2 linked regions of the Homo sapiens genome follow. The protein of the gene in region 2 interacts with the protein of the main gene of each other region in a pairwise test. Each region holds a gene or a part of one and is shown on either strand. Other genes may lie near its edges.

Region 1 (3,750 bases), on a different chromosome or scaffold from region 2:
TCAATTTTGAAACTGGGAAGTATGAGTCCCTCAATGTTCTCCTTTTTCAAGATCGTTTTACTTATTCTGGTTCCTTACACTTCTATATGAATTTCAGTTTCTGCTTGTCAATTTCTGTAAAGAAGCCACTAGGATTCTGATTGGGATTGCATGAATCTGCAGATCCAATGTAATCCATATCAAAATTATTGATTTTTGAACAATATAAAGTCTTCTAATCTGTGAACACAAGGTGTTTTTCTGTTTATTTATTTATTGTTTGTTTGTTTGTTTTTTTGAAGAAAGGGTCTCGCTCTGTCACCCAAGCTGGAGTGCAGTGGCACGATCTCAGCTCACTGCAACCTCTACCTTCTGGGCTTGAGTGATCCTCCCACCTCAGCCTCCTGAATAGCTGGAACTACAGGCATGCACCACCACGACCAGCTAACTTGGGTGGTGGGGGGTTGGTAGAGATGGGGTTTCGCCCTGTTGCTGAGGCTGGTCTTGAACTCCTGGGCTCAAGAGATCTGCCCATCTCAGCCTTCCAAAATGTTGGGATTACAGGTGTGAGCCACTGTGCCTGGTCATTTATGTCTTCTTTCATTCCTTTCAGTGATGTTTGTAGTTTTCAGTGTATTTCTTTCCCAATCACTTTTCAAGACTGCAGAAGAGGTATGTCAACACACTGCACAGAAGTGTGTTAGGGCCAATGAGGGGTGTGGAAGAGCAGGTGTAATCTCCTCCTTCTGTATCAATGTATTTCTCTCATCAAGAATCAAGCTCTTGGCCAGGTGCGGTGGCTCATGCCTGTAATCCCAGCACTTTGGGAAGCCGAGGTGGGTGGATCACAAGGTCAGGAGTTCGAGACCAGCTTGGCAAACATGGTGAAACCCCATCTCTACTAAAAATACAAAAATTAGCCAGGCATGGTGGCGGGTGCCTGTAATCCCAGCTACTGAGGAGGCTGAGGCAGGAGAATGGCTTGAACCCGGGAGGTGGATGTTGCAGTGAGCCGAGATCGCACCACTGCACTCCAGCCTGGGCGACAGAGCGAGACTCCATCTCAAGAAAAAAAAAAAAAAAAAGAATCAAGCTCTTTCTCCCATCCCCCCACCAAGGCAAAAATGAGGTAGAAGAAACATCCTATAGAAGAGAAATGATTCTAGTATAGGTTCTAGAAATGATTTCTAGTCCAACCTGGGCTCTGTAAGATCCAGCCAAAAACCTGTTCTTCAAAGGAAAAAGGCCATACATTGATAAACCTCTAGCCAGACTTAGGGGAAAAAAGAAAGAAGACAAAAATTACCACTAGCAGAAATTAGAGATGCCACTACCACAGATTCTACAGACATAAAAAGGATAATAAGGAAGTATTAGGAATGACTTTATGCCAATAAATTTGACAACCTAGATGAAATTGACCAATTCCTTAAAAGACACAAACTACCAAAGTTCACTCAAGAAGAAATAGATACTCTGAATAGCCTTATATCTGATAACCTTACAGGTCACATTTGACAGTTTAAAAGTAAACAGACTTCCAAACTGGCCTGCTTGGGAAGGTCTTATGATTAATGGTCCCTGAGTAAAGAATCTTATCATGATTTCCTCAGATTGCTGATGTGCTGATTAATGGACTGAAAAGATGCTGATTTATTCCTGAATCATAAAGGTTTACTGACTGTCTTGCACAGAGATGTGTTGACCTGTATGTTGTCATCTGTAGCCAATGCTTGTAACCTCTGTGTTGTACCCTCCAAAGAAAAGGACAACATGAGTATGAGGAGTCCTTTCTCTCCTCCTAGCCTCTCCTGTAGAAGCCTTCTGACTTAGATATGAGTATGAGTCCTTTCCCTCCTCTTAGCCTCTCCTATAGAAACCTTCTGACTAGAAAAGGACAACATGAGTATGAGGAGTCCTTTCCCTCCTCCTAGCCTCTCCTATAGAAGCCTTCTGACTTAGACATGAGTATGAGGAGTCCTTTCCCTCCTCCTAGCCTCTCCTATAGAAACCTTCTGACTTAGATTCCAGAACACTCTCAACTTTGTTGGTGTGTTCCTCTGGGTTGATCCTCACATTTGGCTTCCAATAAACCTTTATCGAATTATTTGTCTCAACAGCCTTAATTTCAGTTGACATTATCAATAAAATGGAATTTGTAGGGGGAAAATGTTCCCACAGAGACCATTCAAGGCTCGGGTAGTTTCAGCGGTGAATTCTACCACTTAAGGAATAAATAACACCAATTCAACACAAACTCTTCTAGATAAAGAGGAGGGAAGACCACAAAACAATGAGAAAACAAATAACAAAATGGCAGGAGTAAATCTTTATCAATAATAACTTTGAATGTAAATAGGCAGGTGCAGTAGCTCATGCCTGTAATCCCAGTACTTTGGGAGGCTGAGGTGGGCGGATCACTTGAGGTCAGGAGTTTGAGACCAGCCTGGTCAATGTGGCAAAACCCCATCTCTACTAAAAATACAAAGATTAGCTGGGCGTGGTGGCACGCACCTATAATCCCAGCTACTCGGGTGGCTGAGGCATGAGAATCACTTGAACCCAGGAGGCGGAGGTTGCAGTGAGCCAAGATTGCACCACTGCACTCCAGCCTGGGCATCAAAGTGAGACCCTGTCTCCAAAAAAAAAAATTACAGCACAGTCAAATCGATGAATGATAGTATGTGAGTTTGGTCAAAAACAACCAAGAAACTTTGAATGTAAATAGACTAAACTCTCCAATCAAAAGACGGAGTGGCTGAATGGATAAAAAAAAAACAAGACCCAACCATCTGCTGCCTACAAGAAACACACGTCGCCTATAAAGACTCACACAGACTGAAAATAAAGGGATAGAAAAGGATATTCCATGCAAATGAGAACCAAAAAAGAGCAGTAGCAGCCATAGTTATATCAAAGTGGATTTCAAGACAAAAACTATAACAAGAGACAAAGAAGGTCATTATATAATGATAAAGGGGTCAATTCAGCAAGAGGATATAACAGTTATAAATATATATGCACCCAACACTGGAGCACCCAGATATGTAAAGCAAATATTACTAGAGCTAAATCGAGAGACAGACCCCAGTACAATAGTAACTGGAGACTTCAATACGCATTTTCACCCTTGGACAGATCTTTAAGACAGAAAATCAAAGAAATATCAGACTTAATCTATACTATAGACCAAATGAACATGATAGATATTTACAGAACATTTCATCCAACAGGTGCAGAATACACCTGCTTCTCATTAGCACATGGATCATTCTCAAGGATAGACCATATGCTAGGCTGCAAAACAAGTCTTTAAAAATCAAAAAAATTGAAATTATATCAAGTATCTTCTCCGACCATAATGGAATAAAATGAAATCAATAACAAAAGGAATTTTGGAAATTATACCAACACATAGAAATTAAACAATACGCTCCTGGATGGCCAGTGCATCAGTGAAGAAATTAAGAAGGAAATTTTAAAAATGTCTTGAAACAAATGATAATGGAAACACAACACACCAAAACCTACTATGTACTAGATTCAGCAAAAGCCATACTAAGAGCTATAGCTGTAAGTGCTAAGAGTTTATAGTTATGAGTGCCTATATCAAAAAAGTAGAAAAACTTCAAATAAGCTAATGATTCATCTTACAGAGCTAGAAATGCAAGAGCAAACCAAATCCAAAATTAGAAGAAAAATAATTAAGATCAGAGAAGAAATAAATGAAATTTAAATGAAGAAAACAATACAACAGATCAATGTAACAAA
Region 2 (3,750 bases):
GTGGGCGCTACAGAGGCCTTCTGACCCACAACACTCTCCCATCTGAAGCTGAGCCACTCCCCACTGGGTCTCCATGCCTGTGCTTGGACCCCTCTGTGGAAGGGGGACTCATTACTCTGAGGTCTTGTGGCTGGCTTTAGACAGGGGAATTAGGGGAAGAATGCTCCTCTCCTGGGTCTGCCTTATCCCCTCTGGGACTAACTTGGGAGAAAAGAAAGATGGGCGAGGTTGGTGAGTGTTTGGGTGTGTGCGGTGTGTGCATTGCACATATGTTTGTGTGTCTAAGTGGGTTTGGTATATGAAGGGACAGTGCGTATGAGCATGTGCATACGTCCCTAAGTGTGTCATCCTGGCATAAGCAACGTCTCCTGGATACTCCTTCATGGGTCCATGAATTCCTCGACTGTGAGGATGGCTGTGTGTGAGAAAGTCTCTCTGGGTGTGACTGTGGGTAGCCATGATCGTATGATGTGTGGGTGTGAGTGTTTGCATGAGTGTGCCCAGGGGGCGTGCCCTGGTGGGGAGGCCAGCCCTCAGGCAGTGGGGGGGGGTGCTCGTGCCAATAGAATAAACACCCATTAGGAGGCCTGGTCATGCCACCAGTGTGGTAATTGTGCCCAGGGAGGGTTGTAAAAACCATTAGGCTGACTCAGTTGGGTGAGAGGCGGTGGCGGGAGTGCCAGTGGGCCCCCTGCCCGCCCACCTCCAGCTCTGTTCCAGGCTCTGTGACAGCCCTGAGTTCAGCAGGGGCTGACTGTGGGTAGGGCACTCGCTCTGGCCGGTGGGGCTCCTTCGCCCTCATTCCCTGGCCCCTCCCCCTTTCAGCCCAAAGTTTCTGCTTAATGAGGGGCGGCCACTCCTTCCTCCTCAGCTCACTTGCCCCAGGGAGCAGCCAAGCTGAATCATGCCCAGCAGAACTGGGTCTTGATGCCAGCGTCACTCCAAGTGGCTGGCAGGACCTGGTGCAGCCTTTCTTGGGGGCAGCTGGCCTGGGGCAGGTTGCTGGTTGAGATGACCCCTAAGGCTCCCAGGGTCACCAGGGAGGATTCTTGAGCCACCAGACCAGCCAACTAGGGATTCACCTTCGACTCCCACCACAGTCTCCACTAGGAGTTAAGGCCACGTTGCCCCATGGGCGGAGTTAATGGGCGCTGGGGCCTTTTATGGCCCCATGAATCTGTGACTTTGGGATGCCAGGGCAGCCCCCACCCCAGCCACTTCCTGTTTGGAAGAGGGATGGTCAGCACTAACAATTATGTCCAGTGGCTGGACACTTCCCCAGCCCCACATCCCTGACTCATGGGGCTATGGGATGCCCACAGCAGCTGCCTTGGGCATGAGTGCTGGCCACTCCAGGGTCCAGTCTATCCTTGCCCAGAAAAATGATCTTCAAAAGGGAAGTGAGAGATGGAAAGAGGTGGGGGATCTTTGAACTAAGGAATTTCCTTAGGTGGGTCACAGGGGAACTGTCAGAGTCAGAAGGAATCTATGTGCCAACGGATCTGACCCACTTTACAGACTGGGAAACTGAGGTTCAGAGAAGAAAGGGCCTAGCCCTGGATCACACAAGGAGGCAGTGACAGAGCTTAGCCTCCAACTCTGTCCCCCAGCTAAGGGCCCTGCCCAGGTCACCCCATAGGGCCTGCCTCACAATCTGGGGCCCATCCCATCCTCACAGATGCTTTCTCTCTGAGATCAAATGTAAACTCAGGAGTGAGGGAGTGATGCAAGTGGCTAAAAGCAACAACTAGAACCAAAGGGAACAAAAAGCTGTTAGACCTCTTCACTCCTCAGCCCCATAAAACAGGGATTACATGGCTCCCAGGAAAAATAATTAAGCCAGGAAGATGAGATGCGGGGAGGGGTGGGGGCCAGGCCGGGAGCTGGTGGGGAAGGAAGGCTGAGAGGACTGGGCTTTTCCCTCTCTCTGCCCTGGCCCCTTGAAACCCTAGAAGACCCTCCAAAAGCTTTAGGGGTTAGGGAGAGTTCAGCCCCTGACCTGCTGGGGTATGGAGGGCAGCCCTGAATTCAGGCTTTGATGCTTCTTGAATTCCAGGGACGACTCACCTCCCTCCCTCTTTCCCTTCCAGAACCTCTGGTGGATCAACACACTTTTCCACTCCTGGACAGACCACTCCGGCCAACTTGCCCACTCCTCATCTGATGGCAGCCCAGCAGGATAAACTTATTTGAACATCAAGCGTCAAATTATCCCCAGGCAGGACCATAGATGGTGGGGGCAGGAATCACCCCCTGGCAGGTGGAGCTGAGTTCTGGATTACCCGGGTCTCAGCAACTGCCCACTGCCTGGGTGACAGATGAGATTTGTGTCTACTAGGGCTTGGAGAAGGCACTCCTCACACACAATCTCTGGTCTCCCTGATACCCATCCCAGGAGAAGGGGGTCTGTGCTGGAGGGTCTAGGTGGCACGCAGAGAGGGGTGTGCAAAGCCAAATAGCTTGATCCAGTAACTGATCCCATCTACTGTGCGACCTTAGGGGAATGGACCACCCTGTCTGATGTGTTTGTCCACCTTGGGAGAAGAGCCCCTGTCCTGCCTCTAGAGAGGGAGCTGGGTAAGGCTCCCAGAAGCGCCTTCTGTGAATGATAGAAATGAGATTCTGCCCAAGGGGTTGGGGGAGAGTCAGGTGAGCCAGCCTGGGACACTCAAAGACTGGGAAGCCCACACCCCGCTTTCTGGCAGAACTGCAGCTGAGCCTGCCACCCACAGAGATAGATCCTAATCTCACCTTGGAAGGCAATGGCTTCTTCAGCCCCGACCTCCCAGTCACCGTGGCTGACTAGCTTCTCCAGCCCCACAGCATCCCAGCGGTCGGGGTAGCAATAGTGTCTTATTTCTTCTCCAACTTTCTCTTCCCACTTGGGGTAGGTGGATGCTCCCTGAGGCCCATCGGTGCTACCTTGCCCACCTTCCCCAGCAGAAGGTCTGACTCCAGTCTGCTGTGCAACCTTGGATGAGCCACTTGGGCTCTCTGTTCCCCACTTGGAGCACCTTTTGTAGGAACTCTGTCCTTCTGAGGTGGAGACAACGGAAAGCATGGTGGGGGTAAGCCCTCTCCTGGCTTTCGTTCTAATTCTTCTCCCACCTCCAGACAGAAGCCTCTGCTCAGAGAGGCCTGGCCTGTCCAGGACTTGGGGGTGATGGGATGGGGAGGAATCTTGGGCTCACCTTGAAGTAAGGAAAGTGCTCCGTCATAAAATTGTAGATCTCGCTGACGGGAAGGCTCCCAGTTTTACTGTTCTTAAGGGCCATGAAGATGAGGATGCTGAAGAAAGAGAAAGCCCCTGAGAGTCCGAACCTCTGACTGGGTCCTGAGCCCACCCCAAGCCCCCCACCCCTGGTGAGAGGCTCTATGGGATTGGAGGTGAAAGAGAAGGGAATGAGAAGGTGTCCATTGAAGTGAGCACGGAAGTCAGGAATTACAGACGTGCGAGGGTCTTGTGGAATCTGAGAAACCTGGGTGGCCATCCTGGCCTAGTTACTCTCTGGCTGTGTGACCTTGGGTGAATGCCTTACCCTCTCTGAACCTCAGTTTCCTCAACTTTGAAGTGAAGAAAGTAATAGCTACCTCAGAGTTGTGAGGATTAAGGATGGTGCCTGTCACATAGAAGGCACTCATTAAACGGAAGCTGTCATTACTAGTTAGTCCTCAGCCAATTGCATGAATGTTGGAGAGTAGGGAGGGAACTAAGGTTTCTTGAGCCTATGCAATGTACCAAGCACAGTA

What was found. Proteins that work in one complex are often made in the same cells at the same time.
Region 1: the proteins of FOXN1 (region 2) and SPATC1L interact in binary tests that used the Homo sapiens proteins (3 or more experiments, as listed by UniProt).

Annotation. Positions count from the first base shown.
Region 1 is NC_000021.9:46,163,748-46,167,497, forward strand, and holds part of SPATC1L (speriolin-like protein), read right to left. Parts: intron 1-3,750.
Region 2 is NC_000017.11:28,530,287-28,534,036, reverse strand, and holds part of FOXN1 (forkhead box protein N1), read right to left. Parts: intron 3,289-3,750; coding exon 3,192-3,288; intron 1-3,191. UniProt on the Homo sapiens protein: Transcriptional regulator which regulates the development, differentiation, and function of thymic epithelial cells (TECs) both in the prenatal and postnatal thymus.